Linked DNA regions of Homo sapiens: regions 2, 3 and 4 are each linked to region 1. The links come from fine-mapping of genetic effects on gene expression. A gene starts in region 1. Each other region holds a variant in brackets. All regions are shown on one strand. Distances are from middle to middle. Region 1 holds the start of HDAC11 (histone deacetylase 11). Region 2 has its middle 9.7 kb from the start of FBLN2. Region 3 overlaps NUP210 (nucleoporin 210). Region 4 has its middle 150 kb from the start of NUP210.

The links. PIP is the estimated chance that this variant, and not a neighbour inherited with it, causes the effect. A credible set is the group of variants that fine-mapping cannot tell apart.
Region 2: its variant is the best candidate, but not a certain one, in a credible set for the expression of HDAC11 in cerebellar hemisphere (GTEx, PIP 0.87).
Region 3: its variant is the best candidate, but not a certain one, in a credible set for the expression of HDAC11 in whole blood (TOPMed, PIP 0.52).
Region 4: its variant is the best candidate, but not a certain one, in a credible set for the expression of HDAC11 in whole blood (TOPMed, PIP 0.85).

The regions. Positions count from the first base shown.
Region 1 is chr3:13,477,503-13,482,646 of GRCh38, reverse strand. It overlaps HDAC11 (histone deacetylase 11), which reads right to left and starts at 2,341. Exons shown (of 10, transcript NM_024827.4): 1 at 2,298-2,341; 2 at 1,253-1,401. The coding sequence starts at 2,299. HDAC11-AS1 (HDAC11 antisense RNA 1) reads left to right here and starts at 2,594. Exons shown (of 2, transcript NR_046690.1): 1 at 2,594-3,004. RefSeq lists enhancers at 1,620-2,276, 2,926-2,985 and a silencer at 1,976-2,465.
Region 2 is chr3:13,536,814-13,541,957 of GRCh38, reverse strand. No RefSeq gene overlaps it. Among named protein-coding and RNA genes, the nearest start is that of FBLN2, 9.7 kb to the left of the region's middle. The variant G/A (reference allele first, on the strand shown) is at 2,025.
Region 3 is chr3:13,333,833-13,338,976 of GRCh38, reverse strand. NUP210 (nucleoporin 210) reads left to right here. Exons shown (of 40, transcript NM_024923.4): 26 at 1,060-1,140; 27 at 2,059-2,190; 28 at 3,365-3,523. Among named protein-coding and RNA genes, the nearest start is that of NUP210, 84 kb to the left of the region's middle. The variant G/A (reference allele first, on the strand shown) is at 2,595.
Region 4 is chr3:13,271,998-13,277,141 of GRCh38, reverse strand. It overlaps a transcript of IQSEC1 not described here. Among named protein-coding and RNA genes, the nearest start is that of NUP210, 150 kb to the left of the region's middle. RefSeq lists a silencer at 1-8 and an enhancer at 35-535. The variant G/A (reference allele first, on the strand shown) is at 2,001.

The DNA of each region.
Region 1 (5,144 bases):
CCCAGCTAAGTTTTTTATTTTTATTTTGTAGAGACAGGATCTTGCTATGTTGCCCAAGCTGGTCTCAAACTCCCGGCCTCAAGTGTTCTCCTAGCCTTGGCCTCCCAGAGTGCTGGGATTACAGGCACGAGCCACTGCGCCCGGCCTCCCTCCACCTTCTGATGATATTACAGGAGGCTCAGTGTGGCATGGCCTCGCAACACCTGCCTGTGCTTTGCTCATCTTCCGTTCAAACCACTAATCAGTCTCACAGCCTGCAGGCAATAGTAACCAGCCTGGATTGAATTATACTGTTGTTTTCATTGCATTTACTTTTTTACCATGACCTATTTATGGCAAGTGAAACTGCCTTTTCCCATTTTGATGACATAATGTTTCCTTTTAAAACAAGTTTAAGTGAATTTCCCACCTAAATCAGGCCCCTTGATTACAAACCACAGTTAAAACGATATGCTCTTCGAAGCATCATTTTGCTCAAGGGGATGAGCCCTAAAGGTAGGGCGCCTGGAGCTCTGAGTTCCAAACCCAACTCCGCCTCTTGTAACTGTGTTACTTCAGCCACTAATGGGAGCTGTGTCCTTCCCTGGAAAGAGGTCACAAGCAGGCAGCCAGTGTGCCCAGTTCGGTCTACAGGTGGGCTTTTACAATCTTATAATGAGTGCCATATTAAGAAATCAGGGCCGGGTGTGGTGGCTCACGCCTGTAATTCCAGCTACTTGGGAGGCTGAGGCAGAAAAATTGTTTGAACCTGAAAGGCGGAGGTTACAGTGAGCTCCTGAGCCTCTGCTGCGATTGTGGTGCCTACCCCGAGGGCTGCTGTGAGGACTGGACTGGAATTGGGTGCACATGTTTCCTAATCATTCTAGGACACAATTTCCCCCATCTGTAATCAAGAGAGGTGCGGTGGAGGTGCTCTACCTCCTGACTCTCTGAACCTTAGGAAATGGACTCCTCCAAGCTTCACCTTCCCTGTGCCCATCAGTAATCAGCTACCTTTCCACTAGGCCTCTTGGGCAGAGGCAGGACTTAGGCCCACAGGATGGGGAGCCAGGGAGAGTCTGAGTCAGGGACATCATATCGTGATTAGGAGTCTGTGTTGGAAAAATCATTTTGGGCGGAAGCATGGGTGGAAGGCCATCCGAGGGCTGAAACTGAAGATGGGAGAGAGCCTGAGGCTTATGTTGGGGATGAGGACGGAGAGGACAGGTGGGTTGGAGGAAGCAGATGAGAGTCCAAGGGGGACCTTCCATACCTTTTAGGAAATTGATCACTTTGCCCCATTTTCCGGCATCAAAGGGATGCAGCTTCTCCAGGCCCATGAAGGTGATGTTGTAGCGCGGCGAGTACACGATTGGCCAGCGTGTCTCTGGCACATGCTGGTACAGCTGGGTTGTGTGTAGCCTACCGTGTGGAAAAAGACAGACGCACAGCTGGGGCAGCCTCGGCAGAAAGCAGCTCCCTCCCGAGCCCGCCTGGACTGACCCACCAGCCATTGCCCAGCACCACTAGCCCCTCAGCCGCAGACAAGGGCCCCTCAACAACAGCTGCTTAAACTGGCTGCCTTTCCCGGAACCCAATTCCAATCCAGTCCTCACAGCAGCCCTGGGGGTAGGCACCACAATCGCACCAGAGGCTCAGAGAGCAGACCAGGTGTGCCCAAGGTCACAGTGCAGGTCTGTGGAGAAGCAGGCGTGCACTCAGGTGTGTCTGGCTGCAAGGCCTCCGCGCATCACCTCTGCACCGTAATAAATGCCCCCACAGCTGTGTGGCACAAGGCTTCGGCTGCAAAATGTGTGGCTGTTGTGAGGACTCAGAGAATGCAACTGAGGAGCTGAGCACAGTAAGCACTCAGAAACCCAAGTCGGGACCCAACCTGAGCCAGGGCGGGGGGCGGGGATCCCCTGACCCCGCTGCGCTGCTAACCCTTCCCATCACACCCTGGCAGTCGTCACCCAGAGACAGAAATCCGCCCCAGTGGCTGCCTCCGTGGGGGCGTCCGCGTAGCCAGGGGGCTGGGCAGCGCAGACGTCAGACCCGCGCACATCGCCCGACCGCTCCGGGTCCGGGCCCAGGCCCGCGGCCGGCGCGCGTCCCTCGGGCCACCGAGCAGGGGCGCGGGGCTGGCCTGGCGCGCCGGGAGGGCCTGGAAACACCCGTCCCGAGCGTCCCTCACCCCTCACCAGCAAATCTGGGCCCTTACCTGGCGCGCCCGCCCGGCCGTCCCCGCCCTCGCCCTAGCGCGCCCGCCCACCGGGACCCCTGGGAGCCCACCCCCGCCCTCGCCCCGCGGCACTCACATCCCGGGGCCGGCCCTCCCAAAGCTGGCCGCAGCTCCGCGACCGGGCGGGGCGGGGCGGGGCGCGGGTGGGGCCAGCCCAGGACACGCCCCCGGGCTTAGCCGCGTCCTCTGGGGGCAGAGCTCTGGCCGATTTGGCCCGCCCCGCCAGTGTTGCGACACAGAGAGCCTGCCCGCAGGAAGGCCACCCCCAACGCCCATCAAGCCCGAAGTCCCGCCTCCGCAGGCAAATACCCGGTGGAATCCCGCCTGGTTCGGAAGCTCCGCCCCCTGGCGGGAGGGCCAAGCGGGTTTCACCCCGGCCTCGCGGAAGGGGCGCGACCACCGTATGTCCTGTTCCTGCGCTTCCCAAGCTGGGTAGAAACGGCGAGAGGCTGGGGGTTAGAAACGACAGGTTCCCGGCGGGCTGTGCCGGGGCTTCGCTGTGTGACCTTGGGCTGGCGTCTGGGCTCTCTGGGCCCTTGTTTCCGCGAGTTAAACGTAGGGGCGGGGGAGTTTCTCTGGCCCTGCCGCCTGTGACCTAAGGAGCCCCGTGACCTCTCCGACCCGAGCCCACCCCCGGCCCAGTCTGCGAGCAGCTCCGGGACAAGCACTCCCGGCGAAGACATGTAGGCTCTCAGAGCCTGCGTTTCCCTCTGTAGAGCAGGCCTAGTTACTGTCTTCAGGGTGCACGCGTCTCCGTCCCCGACCCGCACCCTCACCGCCGGGGTAAGCTGAGCCAGGCCCAAGCGACAGCTGGGGTTGTCCGTGGGGCTGCAACCCAGGAGGAGGCCCCAACAATAGAGCCCCAGAGGACGGAGACAATGGGCCTCTCTGTCGGCCCAGCCGTCCCCGCCATCCAAACAGAAGCAGCTGACGGAGGACTGCCGGGCTGGGATCCCTGGGCTCCGCGGGGGCGGCTGTGTGCCAGGGCGGGGCACAAGGGAAGCGCACAGACGTTTGAAGAGGGGCCCCCGTGTGCCTGCCATGATTGCATGATGGCATCTGAGCCTCACAACCTAATCCTGAGAAAGGTGCCATAATCACCCCAACTTTATCTTGAGGGAACTGAGGTTCGGGCCTGGATTAAACCCAAACTCGGCCACCCGCCAGCATAGTGGCTTTGGGCAGGTTGCTTCAGCCTTCTGGTCCTTCATGTCTGCATCTGAAAATGAAGTACTGGGCCGGGTGCGGTGGCTCACGCCTGTAATCCCAGCACTTTGGGAGGCCGAGGCGGGTGAATCACCTGAGGTCAGGAGTTCGAGACCATCCTGACCAACATGGTGAAACCCCGTCTCTACTAAAAATACAAAAAATTAGCTGGGCGTGATGAAGGGCGCCTGTAATCCCAGCTACTCGGGAGGCTGGGGCAGGAGAATCGCTTGAACCGGGGAGGGGAGGTTGCGGTGAGGCCGCGCCATTGCAATCCAGCCTGGGCGACAAGAGTGAGACTCCATCTCAAAAAAAAAAAAAAGGAAGAAAATGAAGTTCTGGTTGCACTTCATTCTCTGGATTTCATGGGCAAGTCCAGGGAATCAAGAGACAATAATGTTGATTATTATTCAGAGACCATCTGTCATGTGCTAAGTTGAAGTCCAAATGCTTTTTGCTTGTCGAACTCTTCTGACAGTCCTAGGAGGCAAACTATTGTCATCCCCATTTTATAGATAAAGAAATTGAGGCACAGAATGGTGAAGTAACTCACTCAAAGGTCAGGGATGTGGGCAGATGTAAACCACAGAAGGAATAAGTACTATTTTATAAAGTGACAGAGTGCATGCAGTGGCCCTGTGGCATTTGTGAGAGACCGACTTCCCCTCAGGGAACTTGCTCTGTAGTTTGGGAAGCCACACAGATGATCCTCTGGTTGGGAGAATGAGGATCTGGGCAGCCTGGACCTGAAGCTGAGGCCAAAGAGAGTGGGATTGGTCTGAATAAGTGGGTTTTTAAATTTTTTTAATTTTTAAATTATTTTTTAAGAGACACAGCCTCACTATATTGCTAAGGCTGGTGTCTAACTCCTGGGCTCAAGCGATCCTCCCACCTTGGCCTTCCAAAGTGTTGGGATTACAGGCATGAGTCACAATGCCTGGCCAAGGGTTTTTAAAATTGTGTCCTGGTAGCTAAAGAGTTAAGTGGTCTGCGGAGGCCCTGGAGCTTGTGAACACCTTCAAACCACCATGAAAGCCTGGGCCAACCGGCCGCATTATCACGTGGGGAAGAAATAAGTGTTATGCACGCTGCTGTGTTTGGGGGCCTCTTTGTTGCAGTATCCTAGTGTGTCTGCTCACTAAGACACAGCACTGGGGACACAGCTGCACAGAGCAGATGAGTTCAGAAAGCCTTTGTCAAGCTAATAGTTTAGTGGGAGAGACAAGCCTTAACCTAGGAAGGAAAATTGTGATTACAAAATGTGGTAACTGCTGTGAAAGGCATAGGCTGAGACTGTGAGAGAGAGAATAATGGGGTCCCTGATTTGGACAGTGGTCAGGGAAGGCCCCTTTGAAGAAATACATTTTTTCACTTTTTAACCATATGTATTTTATTTTTAAATGGCATTTAATGAAACAAGACACTGACTTATTGAACATTGTATACTTAACTGTTTTTCCCCTTTCATGCAATATTGAAATATATTTCAACTTAAAACAAATAAGAAAGTCCCAAATATAACACTTCTTTTGAAAAATACAGGCACGGCTGGGCGCGGTGGCTCACGCCTGTAATCCCAGCACTTTGGGAGGCCAAGATGGGCGGATCACCTGAGGTCAGGAGGTCAAGACCAGCCTGGCCAACATGGCGAAATCCCATCTCTACTAAAAAGTACAAAAATTAGCCAGGTGTGGTGGCAGGTGCCTGTAATCCCAGC
Region 2 (5,144 bases), 59 kb before region 1:
TTTAGCTTTGGTTATATACTTTTTTACACATAGAATTTTAAAAATTTGATGTAGACAGACCTACCAGTATTTTTCTTTGTGGTCTATGGTTTTGGGATTGTGCTTGGAAAGCCTTCCTCTATTCCAAGATAGAAATAGAATAGTAAGCTACCTATATTCTATTCCAGTTCTTTTTTCATCCATCCATGAAACCTTCATTTATTGCTGCCCTTGAATCTAACCCCAAGCCCCTCTGGCTGCCCGTCCCATGCAGCTGATGGCTGGTCCTCCAGCAGGTTGCCTTGTTATGGGGCAAGAATTTCCAGTTATACCTGGAAACCTCCCCTTCTAGGAATGTGAAGAAGGGAAACACATCTCTGTTTAAATAACAAACTTTGGCCTCTGAGGCTCCAAGTAACCTCTGGTTACCTGGCAGGACTTGACCCAACCCATCTTGGGTATAGATGGGTTTTGGATAATTAGGATTATGGTGGCCATGAAGATGTATCACTCAGATCTCGACTTATCTCTGCAGCATAGGTCACTGACTGCTCCTCCACACCTGCCATCACATTTGCACTGAGGCCACTGTGAGCTGCTCCCAACCAACGACAGAGCACAGAGCTAGGAATGGGAATGCAGCAATATCCCAGAGAGACCCAGGACTCCTTGCACTCACCTGCTGGAAAAGCTCCCAGGCCCAATCATCATCCTGGCTGAAGCTTTTTGGAATTGCATCACATTCCAAGACTCCTCCTGCCCAGTCCTTCTTCCCCTTCTCCCAGCACAAGTGTCAGAATTGTGCTGCCCTCTGAACTTCTCTCTGCCTTCTCCTGCTCCCTCCCTGCAAAATTTCCTTGCACATCTAATCCTGTCTTGCTTGGCAAAATCACTTTGGGCTTCTTAACAGACCGAAACTAATCCAATGATAGAAATGGTGATTGAAATCGTCACTGCATTATACAGTTTATGAAGCTCAGACACAGCTGCCTCCCTTGCATGTCCTCCACCAGCTGAAGGTTAAACACTGGGTGTCCCCACTTCACAGATAACAAAACTGAGACAGCTCAGAGGCAGCTGAGCTTGGGTCCCCCCAGGCAGCATGAGTGAGTCACACAGCCCCCTGGAGTCCCAGGCTCTTCTCTCTAGGCCTCTCAGCCCAGAGCCTGTGCCTGGGGCCACGGCCCAGCAGGCTCTGTGTTTCCTCATCCGGCCCTTAGGCCCTGGGGCCCCAATGGGCCACTGGAATGCCAGGAAAGACAGAGCCTGGAACCCCCTTCCTTGGGTGGAAAGAGCCCAGGTGCCCCTGCCCCAGCTGAACCCAGAGGAAGGAGCCAGGAACTGAGCTATGGGGTGGGAGGGCAACACCCTCTCTTCTTGAGCAACTCTGGATGTTGAGAGAAAAGTCATCCTTGCACAGAGAGGTGACCCCCTTCTGGGTTCTGGCCCCACCCTCTGGTCCTCTTGGCCTGTCTGCTTCTCCTCAGCCAAAGCCTCAAGGCTGCTCTTCTGCAGGCTGAGCCACCCCAGCTGCTCTAGTATCCTGGGGCCAATTCAGCCGTCCCTCTTCCAGGACTATTCCAGGGACTGAGCACAAGTCCTTAGAGTGGTCTGCACGGCCCATAGAGAACTTTCACTTTCCACATTCCAGCCTTCAGGCCATGTGACCTAAACTGGCAGTAGTTATTCCGGGTGATGTATTAAGCTGCCAACACACTCTGACTCCAGGGTCCCTTGACCTCCTAGCTGAAGGTCCAGAGCTGCTTGGCCATGGGCAGGTCTGTCCCTCTGTCCTGAGTATCTTCACTGAGTTGCCCTCTGGTCTCTTCCCATCCCTCCCGCTTTCCCCCAGGTGCTTCAACCCCTCCTTTCTCCAGGCCTCTTCACCAGGGCCCTGATAAGGGAGCAGATGGGAGACCCACATCCTCTGGACCACACTGGCCAGCTGGCCAAGCCCCTGGAAGTAGAGAAGACCCCCGCAAGGTGTGCCTTGATCCTTCATTTCCATCTGTCGGCCCTGGCCTCCCGACATGTTCGGGACATGG[G/A]CCCAGTCTCGGCTCCATGCCCCTGATCTCCACTCACCCTGACCCCCAGCAGGAACATAGCTTCAGTGTCCATCCAGCCATCTGTGCAGCCATCCGCCCACACAGGGATGACATAGCACGTGGTTACCAGGTCAGACTCTGGAGCCAGGCTGCCTGGGTTTGAAGCCCAGCTCTGCTGCTTAGTAGACATGGGACCTGGGAGAAGTTGCCTCTCTGTGTCTCAGGGTCCCAACTATAAAATAACTGCCTACCTCGGCATGCTGTTGTGAAGACTGAGTTATATGCTTAGGAGTGCTTAGGAGGTGGTTTGCATGTGGTAAGTGCTCAATAAGTATTAGCTAATATTACTCAACAAACCTTTCCAGGACACCCACTCTGTGCCAGGTACTGTGCATCCTACCAGGGCTCTGGCCATGAGTAGGGCTGACTCGCCCCTGACCACATGGAGCTCACATTCCAGTGGGAGATAGATATAAATCCAACAACCTCACACCCACACAATAAGAAGCGCCTTGAGGCAGTGCTGCAGGGGAGGTGGTGCGGACAGTGGTCAGCTGGAGCCCGGCTGCCTGGCTGTGTGCTAACTCAGACTCGGGAGGCTCCTAACCACTTGGGCTTCCTGTCCTCTTCCATAAAATAGGAACAGCAGCTCCTACATCGCCAGGCTTTGGGAGGGCTCCATGAGTTAACCAGTGGGAAGGATCAGACAGGGCCTGGCACACAGGAAGTGCTCAAGGACAGTTAAGTGGGCTCTGGGAAAGGGATCCGGAAGCTGAGGAGTCCACTGAAGGGATAGTTGGGGAGACGAGGAGGTGGCAGGGTCAGGCCTCACGGGGGAGCCTGTGGGCACGGGAAGAAGCTCCATGTTTATTCTGAGAGCGGTGGGAAGCCACTGGAGGAGGCTGGTGCAAGAGTCCAGGTGGGAGATGATGGGGTTCAGACAGGGCTGGTGGCATGGGGGCAATGGTAGGATTGGAGAGACACTGTGGGGAGAGGACACTGGTGTGATGCTGGGAGCCAGAGAAAGGGAGGGGCAGGCTCACACACACACGCACACACACAAACACACACACAGGTTTCTGGCTCAGGAGGTGTGAATGACAAGTTGGGAAAGGGTGCCAGTCTGGACTTACTGCTGCAAGTCACAGTATACTTGACTCAAAGAGGCTAAGTCAAGAAGGGAACTATTGACTTCAGTACCGACAGAGTACAAGGGTGGACTTCAAGCACAGCTTGATCCAGTCCTTCAAACATGTTACCAGGAGCAAGTTTCTCCCCCATTGTCACTCAACTCATAACCCTTCAAGTCCAGCTAGAATGCAGCACTTTTGCACTGGTCTTAAGGTTCTCCCCAAATGGAGGGACTCAATTCAGGTGCCCAGGCCTGGAACCAGTCACTGCCGTGGGGATGGGCTGTGCTGATTGGCTCTGCCCAGGTCATATATGTGTCCAGAGGCCTGAGCAGGTGGGAGGAATCTCCACGTGGAAACTGAGGGCTGTTCCCAGATGCTGGAGAGCGATCCATGAATGGCCCCAAAAGGGTGGGTAAATTTGCAGCCTTGAGTTTCAGGTCAATTTCTTGGACATTAAATTCAGACACTGTCAGATATGTATTTAGCACACATTTTTAAAATATGTTCTCTCTAAAGTTTTCAACAGACAGAAGGGGACTTCATCAAGCTCCTCAGTGATTGGCTGTCAAGTCGTGGAAGCCCCTGTGATCCAGCCAATGAGAGCCCAGAGATACCCAGAAATACCCAGATCTCATAGGGTCGTTGGCTCCCACTAGGCTGGGAACCGAAGGCCAAGCACACTGCGAGGGTCTGATGGAAAAGCAAGTCGCCTGTGGTTGGTGACTAATAATAAAACAAGCAGGTTACACCCATTGCAAAAATGTTAGCCAGCAGGAGAGAATGTGACATGAGCCCAGGGGCTGATTCGGGTCATGTGCAAACACTAGAAAGGGGTTCTGTGAAAAGCATGGGCTTCTTGACCCAGAAATCCTCTCTGGGGCCCCTTCCCAGTCACACTAACTCCCAGAGTTTCCTTAAAAGTGTTCCCACTTCTGTATGCACCCCTAATCTGTTCAATTAGGGCTGTTTTTGAACTTGATATAAAGAGACTCATACTTTAAGTGTTCCTCATTGCACTGAGGAGATGAGATGCATCCATCAGTGCCTACAGGTGGTCTTCATTCCTTTTCAGTGCTGTATAGTATTCTACTGACCAGCTCTTGCATACCGAATGATTCTCTGTCTATGGATATTTAGATTGCTTTCTGGTTTTTGTCATGTTTTGTTTTTCCTGTTACAAATAATGCTGCTATAACCGCCTCGTGCCTGTCTCCCTGTGACATTTGTAGACATTTGTATGAGTCCTTTAGGGCAGACGTACAGCTAGGTCATGGGACATGCACATATTTAGGCTCATCAGCTCATGCCAAATACTTGCTGCAGAGTGTTTGTGCCCATGTGTATTTCCACCAGTTGCTGCCAAGCGTGCCACCTCCTCACCAACTCTTGTGTGCCTGTGTAGTAGGTGTGAAATGGTACCTTGGTGTGGTTTTAGTCCACATGTCCCTTGTTACTAATGAGGATGAACATCTTGCCATGTTCGTCATCCATCTGCATTTTCTTTTTTGTGAAATTTCTGCTCATGGCTTTTGCCCCTTAAAACATTGCTTTCTTCTTTGCAATCACTAATTTCTAAAGCACAATCTGGCCATGGGACTCCCTGATTTTAAGCCCTCCGTGGCTCCCTGTGGGCCTCGGAGTCAAGCCCATACTCGGCAGCCTGGCCGGCAAGGTCCTAAAGTGGTTTGGCTCCAGTCTGTGTCTCCGTTTTTGATGGGAGCTGTTTCCTGTTTCCGCTCACGGTCTCCCCTCCCCCGACTCCTGCTTCCTCCACTGGCTTACCCACTCTCTGCTCTCTGCAACCTCCCAGCTCCTGCTTGTGCTGTGCCACCTGCCAGGAGCACCCTGCCCCTCCCCCAGGGCACCTCATTCTTTCCTGGCTGCTTCTTTGTCAGCCTTCAGGTCTTAACTGAAACCTCACCTCCTCCCAGGAGCTCTCCTGGCTCACTCTCACCCCCTGGACTGTGCAGCCACAGCACCTGTGAGC
Region 3 (5,144 bases), 140 kb after region 1:
CCTCAGGAGCTGGCTGATTTTTCTCCTGAGGGCGTAGGTAAAGGGCAGCTGGCTAGAAATTCAGCAAGAGGGGCACAGGGCCCTGCGTATTCCTTGTCTTTGTGGTCTAACCTTGCTGGGCACCCTCCCTTCTAGGTCCCCCATCTGGCAGGTTGGGGAGGTGCTGGGGAAAGGCCCTGGTGGTCCTTGGCAGGTGGAGGGGCTGCACCACGAGCCCTATCTGAAAGGCATGTTCTGAGCCCAGGCAGGCAGAGGTTTCACCTGCGGCGCCTTGTCCATGCCTGGAATGTGATTCTGGTCAGATGCTTCCAGTTCCATCTGTCCAATCCAGAGCACACAACCAGCACCCCAAGGCCGTGGGGTGGGCCAGGACTAGCAGGAAGAGACTGAGCAGAAAGATGAGTGAAAGGAGGGGAATGGGTGCTTTTCAAGCACTTACTGTGTGCCAGGCATTAGCCCAAGTCATGAGCCTCAAGATGGGCTCAGCCTGAGCACGTCAGAGAGTCTAAGGGTTTTAATAGCCTCAGTTCAGCATGACTCAGCAGCACTAGGAAGAAGCCAGGAGAGTTAGTCTTTGGCCAGATTAATAGGAGTGTGGAGTTCAGAATGAAGGAGGTTATAAGTTCTGATCAGACTCTACAGGGCTCCTGCATTCGTCCCTGTACCCTGCTCAGTCAGAGACAGGCAGGCTGGATTTGGGGTTGGGAGGGCCTGGAGACCTTTTGCTTGAGGGCAGCCAGGCCTAAGGAAGAGCAGGCACCAGTCCCCGGCCCCAAGTCTGCAGTGCTGACCTGGAACAGCTGGATCAGACAGGGCAGCAGCCTCAGGGGACTGGGTTGGGACCTGCGGGGCCTTGGGAGAGGCAGTGGCTGGCCCATGAGGGGAGAGCCACTCACAAAGCCAGGCCTCCCTCGGCAGAGGAGCATGGTGCTGGTCATCCTGAGGGGCCTTCTCGCCACAGACTCTGAGCCGCAGCCTGCTTCCCTTGAGGGGTCCCTTCCTGAAACATCCCTGGCCAGCACTGCATCCCCACACCTAAGTGCCACCCTGTTTCCCCAGGACCTCGTGCAGGTGGAGGTGCTGCTGCTAAGGGCCGTGAGGATCCGCGCCCCCATCATGCGGATGAGGACGGGCACCCAGGTGAGGGGACCTCCTGGGCTCTGAATCCTGGTTCCCGAAGAGCCACTGCTGGGACCCTGTCCTCAAGTTAGAGTGCTTCTCCACCTCCTCCATCTGCCTGGCCCGGGTATCTAGGGCCTGCTTCCCACCTGTCCCCACCCAGGGAGACACCCTCCATTGCTCTCTGGTAGCCACTGATGAAGGCCTGCTTCCTGCTGGCCTGTCACCTTCCCACATCTGGAATAGTACCAGGTGCCTAACAGGAGCACAGTGACTGTGGCACTTAACTCAACTCCGTGCTGTCTTGGACATTAATCCATTTGGTGTTCATAGCAGCCCTGGGAGGCTGGTGTCAGAACCATCTTCGTGTCGCAGATGAGCAAATGAACACACAGAAAGCTTAAGACCCGTGCCCAGGGCCACACAGCTAGGAAGTGGCAGCAGTGGGAGTGGACTGGGCAGCCTGGCACAACACCTGCTGTGGCCTTTTGCCGTCTTGCCTCCGCCTGTGCCCTCAAGCCGACACAGCAAATAGAGACTAAAGGAGCCAGGGACCCCACCCACACGTGCCCTGTGAGCAGGGACCCCAGCTAGATTAGGAGAGAGGGGCCCGGAGGAACCAGCACTGTGGGGCAGCACGAGCTGTGCTGCTGGGGGACCCATGGCCTCCTAGAGCTCCAGGGACTCCTTCCGGAAATGAGTATCTTGGCCATGGAGAGGTGCAGCCCGCTGCAGGGGAGGGACAGTATGGGGAAAACAGTCCCACCTCTGGTTTGCTCGTTTGATATTTCATCAAAATTCCCAAACCTGTGCCATGCTCTTCTCTAGTTGGGGAGGAATTGGGTTCATCTCCCACTGCTTGAAGGAGGCAGCAAAGCTTCTGGGGGCATTCCCAGTGCTGGGAGCTACTGCTCACTGGGCCTGACTTCTCCCCTGCAGATGCCCATCTATGTCACCGGCATCACCAACCACCAGAACCCTTTCTCCTTTGGCAATGCCGTGCCAGGCCTGACCTTCCACTGGTCTGTCACCAAGCGGGACGTCCTGGACCTCCGAGGGCGGCACCACGAGGTAGGTAACCACCCCCTCCAGAGCTCACCTCCCACCCCTGTCCCAGGCCAGCACCCCGAGTGGCAGGGAGGGTTCCTGCCACATTGTCCCACAGGAAGTCCCCACCCTCACACCTAGAGAGGCCCGCCCACTTTCTTCCCTCTCCCGAGGCTCATCGGGACTCCCTTCTCCCAAATGCTAAACACATAGACGGGGTGAGTAGGTGCCTCTCCCAACAGAAGCAGCCGTGTGAGGAAGTCACAAAAGTCCTGGGAGGTCAGAGTCTGCAGCTTCTGACCATTTTCTGAGATGATGCCTGGCAGCCCTCGGTTTCTCCTGGTTCATCCCAGAGGCCAAATTCCCCTTCCCTTAGCCCAGCGAGGGGCCCTGGCTTCTCCTAAGATGTCAGAGCTGGAAGGTGCCAG[G/A]GAGACTACTAAGTCTGTCTGTGTTAACTGAGGCCAGAAACGGGAAGGGACTTGCCCAGGGTTGCCCAGCAAGCCAGTGGGGAAATGGTACTGGGCACCAGCCCCTGTGACTCTAGGCCCAAGCCCAGGTGGGCCTTGGACACACAGGACCCAAGTGGAGGGTGGCTTGAAAGGTCGCTCCCTGCCTGATTCAGGGACAGTGGGGATGGAGGCCTGGAAAGAGACCAAAGCCCAGGGATAGGATTTCCTAAAGGCTGCCTGAAGCTTGTCTAGTGTGGGACGAATGCCCCCCGACCCCACCCAGTGGGAACAGAGTCCTGTCCCTGGTGCCCGGGGGCTCCCCCAGATTGCTCCCATGGAACACAAACAGTGAGACTTATTAGCAGATATCCCCAAACAGAATAGTCTGCAGGGACACACTGCAAAACCCAGCATCGCTCTGGGTGACCTAGAAGCACTGAAGTCTGAGGGACATCCTGTCATGAAGGCCCCTGGCTTACGTGGGTGGGCCCAGTGTTTTCCAAATGCATCTGTGCATGTTGTGCGATGCAGGCAGGGCAGGACCCGGGCACCCATGCTGGGGAAGCCGGGTCTGCACAGCTCTGGGGTTAGCAGACCCAACCCAGGCAGGAAGGCAGAGCCCTTGAGAACAGGCCAGCAGCTACCAGGACTGGGGGGCTGGGGGGTCTGGGGCTACTGTCCGGCTCTGCCTTTTTGAGGACACAGGGGCCTGGGCCTTACCCCTGAAAACGTGTTTGATGTCTTCCCAGGCGTCGATCCGACTCCCGTCACAGTACAACTTTGCCATGAACGTGCTCGGCCGGGTAAAAGGCCGGACCGGGCTGAGGGTGGTGGTCAAGGCTGTGGACCCCACATCGGGGCAGCTGTATGGCCTGGCCAGAGAACTCTCGGATGAGATCCAAGTCCAGGTAGGAGGCAGGTGGAAAGGCCACAGGGAAGGGGGAGAGGAAGTGCCAGCTGCCCAATCTTCCTTCGGGGCCACATGTTGCATGGGCAGGGGCTGAGAGACCTGAGAAGCTCTCAGTCCGTGGGGATGACAGTGGTCCATCGCAGTGGGGTAAACATCCGGGTGTGATTGGTGCTATGGGAGCCCAGAGGTGGGGCCAAGCAAAGGCTTCACAGAGGAGTAATGTTTCAGGATGGGAGGGGCTGGCAAAGGCCTGGAGGTGGGAACTCACTTGATGTGTGGCCAAAAGAGCAAAGAATTCTGAGCTTGGGGCTCACTGTGTCTGAGTGGCTGATAATTTAATCGTTTGTGTTTATTTAACACACATAGAGCACCCAACAGAGGCTGGGGCGCCCTTGCACGTTTTTCAGTATTGCTGCCTCCAGTCCTCAGGTGAAGCCTGCGGGGCAGGGGCTGCAGGGGCTGCCACCTGCTGATGCCCCTGAGGCGGGGAGGGTCAAGGTCACAGGGTAAGTTGGGGGTGGCCTCAAGAGGCCTGGGGACTGTGCCCTGTCTGCATTTGGAAAACAGCCTCAGAGAGGGAGGCGCCTTGTTCAGAGCCAGGGGTCAGGACTGCGTCTAGTGGTTCTCCTGCCTGGGGTGCAGCCCTGTGTCTGTATCCAGCCTGTCCCTGCTACTTATAGGATGGGCTGTGGGCGAGTTCCTGCCCCTCTGGGCCCCTCTGCAAGGTGGAGAGTTGGCAAGTTGGCTCTGAAGAGCATTTTTGTCTTCAAGGGCCTCGTTCTGCTCCTCTGGGCCTCAGTAACCCCTGGGTGCTCCTAAGCTGTAAAGAAAAACAAAAAGTGTTCCTTATATGTCCCAAGAAAAGAAACAGTTTCTAGTCCCCGCCTCAAGAAGAAATAAACTATGTCTAACCCAAGCACCTCCCTGATCAGGGGCAAAGAAGCAAACTTTTCAAGAAAGAAACACCCACAAAAAAACCCCCACCGATCTGCCAACCCCTCACCCCTGCCTGCACATGCACACACACACGACACACATGCACACACAGACACACATACATAGAGACACATACATACAACACAGAGGTACACATGCACATCCCCACACTCACCAAATGCATGTTCTTTGTTAAAAGGAAGTAAGTCCTGGAGCCTATCATGGAATTAAAGGCAGGGTTTTGCAGCTTCCAAATTCTGTAACCTCAGTTGGGTCACTTGGCAGCTCTGTGCCTCTGTTTCCCTATCTGACAGCAGGTAGAGTTTGAGTAAATCAGAAACTAGAGAATCTGGATCCAGCCTACAAACGTGTTTTATTTGGCTCACTCAGGCCTTTGAGACAGCTTGTTGTCATGTAAAGATAGGAAGATTCCAGGTAAAAATCTAAGATGCAGCATGTCCTAAAGATATGGTGTCTGCCACAGCAAAATCAGCAGGCAATGAGAAGCAACCTTGACTCCATTAGAGCTGCACTCTCCAGTTTGCCACAGGCCCCGCCACTCCCTGTTTTCTCCCTGACAGTGATATCAAGTATCAGTTGCCATTTACCATGGTGCTCATGCTGTTGCTTTTCTTATAGTTAACAGGAAAGTGGGAAATATCTTACAACTCCCCCTCCATCTA
Region 4 (5,144 bases), 210 kb after region 1:
TCTGTTTTTTTTTTTTTTTTTTTTTTTTTTTTTTTAAGGAGGAGCAATGCTTTGCCTAACTTGGGAAGTGCACCATTCTGAGCTTGTCAGGGTGTCAGCCGTATAATTGCCACAGAGCAGCAGAAAAAACAACACAGGCCAGCCAGGCATTTGGCAAGAACTGGAATAGGGGAGAGGGAATTGACCTAATTGAAATGGAGCAGAGGCTGCGGTGGGGCCAGGAGGCAGTCCGAGTTCAGCGGCCTCCAGTGTGCTGCCCCCACCCAGGGCAGACCCGGGCCAGGCTGCAACCAAATGACTTGAAGCTCTGAGGTAGCAAGGCCTTGGGAGTTTGAATCCTGCCCTCCGAGGGGTGGATATTCCAGCAGGATGCACCGGGCCAGTTATGGCAAACGTTGGGTGCTTCTGTTTTCATCGGGAAACGGCTGCTGCCTTGAGGTTGCCAATGCCTTTCTCCAGCCCATCAGCCTTGGCCTTGCTCTGGGGACCCTGCAGGCCCCCATCTGTGGCTCCTGGACAGTTAGCCCTGTCCCCGTAGCAGGCTGGCAGGATCCCAGCCCTGCCTCAGCCACTTCCCTGCTGCTTGGACTTTCCAAGTAACAGCCCCAGCCTCTCTGAGTTGCTGTCTCTCCCCATGAAAATGGAGAAGGCCACTTCCGTGCAGGGAGAGCAGATACAGGAGTTGCCTGTGGCCCCGCATTAGGTGGTGGCTCCAGGGGAGGAATAGCCAGGGCATCAAGAATGCTTTGAAGGAGGCCAGGTGCAGTGGCTCACACCTATAATCCCAGCACTTTGGGAGGCCGAGGCGGGCGGATCACGAGGTCAGGAGATTGAGACCATCCTGGCTGACACGGTGAAACCCCGTCTCTACTAAAAATACAAAAAATTAGCCTGGCGCAGTGGCAGGCGCCTGTAGTCCCAGCTACTTGGGAGGCTGAGGCAGGAGAATGGTGTGAACCTGGGAGGCAGAGCTTGCAGTGAGCCGAGATCACGCCATTGCACTCCAGCCTGAGTGACAGAGCAAGACTCTGTCTCAAAAAAAAAAAAAAAAAAAAAAAAAAGAATGCTTTTGAGGATTGTTTTCCCTCAATGTTTTATTACAAAAATGTTCAAACATATAGAAAAGTTGCAAGAGCTGTATGGGGCAGAACACTGTCCCCCTGGATTCTGCAATGAAGGTTTTGGAATATTTACTATGTTCCATGCCCCTCCGTCCTTGGAGTTCTGGAACTCTGTGGATGGGGAGCTCACATCGGTAGAGCGCCTGCTGTGGCCCAGGAGCCGGGCCCTGCACTGCCTGCACCCGACTGCCACCTCTTCTACTCACACCCCTTCCTGGGCTGCTTGTCCTTGGTTAGGGCCGCTCCCCCACTGCCTCCACTTGGAAACATCATGCAAATAGGAGATGGAGACCTGTACCTGGAAGATTACAGAGGGATCAGGCCACGGAGGAAGGGGGCCAAGTGGTGTGCAGCCCCAGAGCACGAAGCGAGTGACCACCCACGGGTGTCAGCAGAGGCTTCCTGGAGGACGTACCTTTGAGCTGGGACTTGAAGAGCAGGAGAGAGGAGGAGGATGGTGTCAAGGCAGGGGAAGCAGCATGTGTGGTGTGTCTGTGCCCGGGGTGTGTGAGGGGCTGGGCGGTGCTGTCATTGGTTGTAACAGGTCGGTGCAACTGGGCCAGGTGAGGCCCAGATGGGCACAGACCAGCCTAGGGCACTTGCCTTTCTTAGAACCCAGGTATCAGTTTTAGGGAGCTGGTGGACAAGACTGGCCCCTGCCCTCCAAGCTGGGCCTAGCTTGAATCCTGATTTTGAAGTGTTCAGCTTTCCCTCTTGGATGAGGCGAGATCCACAAAGGAACGGGTTAGAGACTGTCGTTCTGCACCTGAACTTAGAATGTGTTGATTGTAGTGAGGCCACAGCAATAACCGAGCCCGTTCTAGGTGCTGCCTGCTGGGCACATTCTTCTCCATGTCTCTGTTGATGCTCTAACCCTGT[G/A]ACAAGTGTGAACTGTCCTCATCCCATTTCGCATATATGAAACCTGAGGCTCAAAGAAGTTAAGTGGTTTGCCCACAGTCACCCAGTGGCAGCGGCGGGATTCACACCCAGGTCTGTCTGCCTCCAGGGCTGGTGCAGTTCACCACCACGCTGGGCTGCTTCAGAACTGTTCATTGCATTGTGTAGATGTTTTGGAAACATTGGGGGCCGTTTCCAAATGTGGCATGGTCCCTTCCCCAGATTTTTGGCTTCAGGAGCCAGAATGAATGTAGCTTTGTCACCCACCTGGAGACAGCCCAAGTTCCTTCTCTGCAAAGCAGCTGACAGTGGTTGCACCCAGCTGGCAGGGCTGCTATGGGCAGTGGGTGCCAGTGTGCTTGGGGAGGGCCCTCTAAGCCATGCAGCACACCCAGCAGCCAGTGCCGGGTGTTCCTCTCTGAGTTGGTCTGACCTCCCCACTCCGCTGAGATGAACACTTGCTGAGCTCCCAGAAAGTTGCTGTTCACGTCTTCATTCATGCAGGACACACTTGGGACATGTGGTCGCAGGGGAGGGTTGGGATGGGGGCCCCTCTTCTGGCTTTGCCCCAGCTTTTGCTGGAAGCACCTGTGGTGGTTTAGCTGTCCTTTGCTCTGCATACCACTTGCATGAAGAGCGTCACACCCGTGGAGAACCAAGGGGCCTGAGCCCGCCCCCTCCGTGGGAACCGCAGGAGCACAGCTTGCCAAGGGCAGAAGACAGGGCCTGCCCAGAGGGTGTCCTGGGACCGGTAGGGCAGGAGGGTCCTTGCAAGTCACTTGTAGCTGCCTGTGGAGTGCTGGCCCTGCGAGGACAAGGTGCGGGGTGGGATCCTCTGCTTCCTGGATGGCCTCAGCGCTCAGGTGAGAAGTCCTTAGCACGTGTCTGGTGGTGTTGGGGGACAGCCTCTGGGGACACTTCCGGGGGCAGGCATGTTTGTGGATGAGATTCACGGATGGGCTGCAGGGCCCATGAACAGCCCGAGGCTGAATGGGACCTGGTGGGGTAGCCTGGGAAAACCCAAAGACAGGACTGGAGGGAGGGTCCCGGCTTTGGGATTTGCTTGTACTTTCTCCCCCTCGGCATGTGAAATGCACCTCTCTGAGCCTCAGATTTTTCATCTCTGCTATGGGGACAGTGACAACTGGATCTCCCTCTTAGGGTTGCCCTGAGTGGGGAGTGTGCCTGGCGGCGTGGTTGAGGTGCAGGGAGCGGACCAGTGTGCATGGGGCAGAGTGAGGGGGAGGGCATGAGAGAGGAGGGTGGAGGCAAACAGGGCAGGGGCGAGGGGTGAGGCAGAGCCAGCAGGGCCATGTGGGCCCACTGGGGACTTTGGCTTTGATCTAAGGGAGACAGAAGTCCCTGGAGGGTGTTGAGCAGAGGAGGAAGTGATGGGACTTAGGTCTGGGCAGGATCTCTGGCCCCTGGGGCAGGCATGGGTACCAGGGTGAGGGAGGCTTCAGGAGATGCTGCAGAGCTGGGTGCTGGGATCCTGGGCAGAGGCTGCTGGGATGGGCAGGAGCACGTGGGCTGGGGCTGAAGGCACACGGCCCCACCCTCTCTTTTCCCCCAACAATCGCCAGTTCAGATGGGAAGGAGAGAGAGGAGTGGAACCAAAGGAGTGGCTCCAGATGGGAGGGGCCGTGCCCATCTTGGCTGCCTGCAGCAGTTCTTGGAATGGGGAGTTCTTGAAACGGGGAGTTCTTGAAACAGGGAGTGAGGTGGTTGGCGACACCCCTGGACTCTGCCTCTGGCTTCCCACACCCAGGCCACTCCCCTCTTTCACCTTGAGGGAGGAGCAGCCCAAGCAGAGATGTTCACTTCCCTTGGGCTGGCCAGGACTTCTAGATGGCTTGGGTGAGGCTCCCGGTGGAGTATTTGGGCAGCACGGTGGCCAGGAGCCAGGACACAGACTCTGGGGCCAGGCCAGCAGCCTGAATCCCAGCTCCCTCCACATGCACCACCTGTCTTTGTCTTCTCTGGCCTGTGGCTGAGCCTCTCTGTGCTTCAGCTTCCTCACCTGTAAAATGGGGTTATAAAACCTCCCTGCTAGAGGAGTGGCAAGGATTACATCCTTGATGTATGTAACTGTGCACAGAGCCACTTGTATCATTATTGTTTCTTCTTTCTCTGTTGAGAAGGAAAGTGATTTTAGAAAGTCATGGAATTTAGAATCAGGTGACTTGGGTTTCAGCACATGTCTCTTATCTACCCACTTCTCTGCATAGTTAATGCTGCTGATTTTGAATCCAACCCTTTGTACGATGTGTTATCTCAATCCCTTTAACGCTGCAGCCTCTTCACATGTTTTAAAGTTGTGGAGTCTTAATTTTATTAAATTGAATTAGGGCCTCCCCGACAAAAAAGGAGGAGCCTGGAAAGTTCCATCCCCCTCCCACAGCCCATGACATGCTCACATCTCTGTCTTTACTTTCTGTGAGGCTTTACTCTTACCCAGCTCAGCAGTTGCCGGACATCGAGATGTGTAAAAATCCGCCACCTAAAAGGGGTGTGCGGGGTGACTCTGACCATCCCCTTTGACCCTCACCCCTAGGTTGGCCTGCTTGCCCTCCCTGGCACCTACTGTGAGCCAGTCTCTGGGCTAAGGAGTCAACAGATGCCCCCGTACTGGGGCTTCACCACCACCAACTTTCCCTTTCACCAGACGATCCTGCAGGGCTGTGATGGACCACATCAAATAATGGGAACAAAGGTGTCTTGAAAGTGTAATATTGTACGAATGAATGTCTCTCACCTAGGGATGGAATGTGAGGGGTTGCCGCCACCCCTCCATTGTTGATGAGCAATAATAGCAACCTTGATGACTGGCTATTTATTGTAAGCACTTGCCATGATTCTGTGAAGTGGGGAGCATTATTATCTCCATGGTATATATGGGGGAACTGAGGCAAAACAAAGCAAGGGTGGTTGGGAAGGTTGTGGTATGAGCAAGGATCAGCCAAGCATATCCCTATCAGAGCTGTCATCTAGACATTTTTAGGGGACTCTTAGTTTCAGTCCGTTTTGTTCAGAGATCATACTTTGTGTGATTTCAGTCCTTTTAAATTTGTTGAGACCCATTTTAGGGTCTGAGATGCAGTCTATCCTGGAGAATGTTCCGTGTAC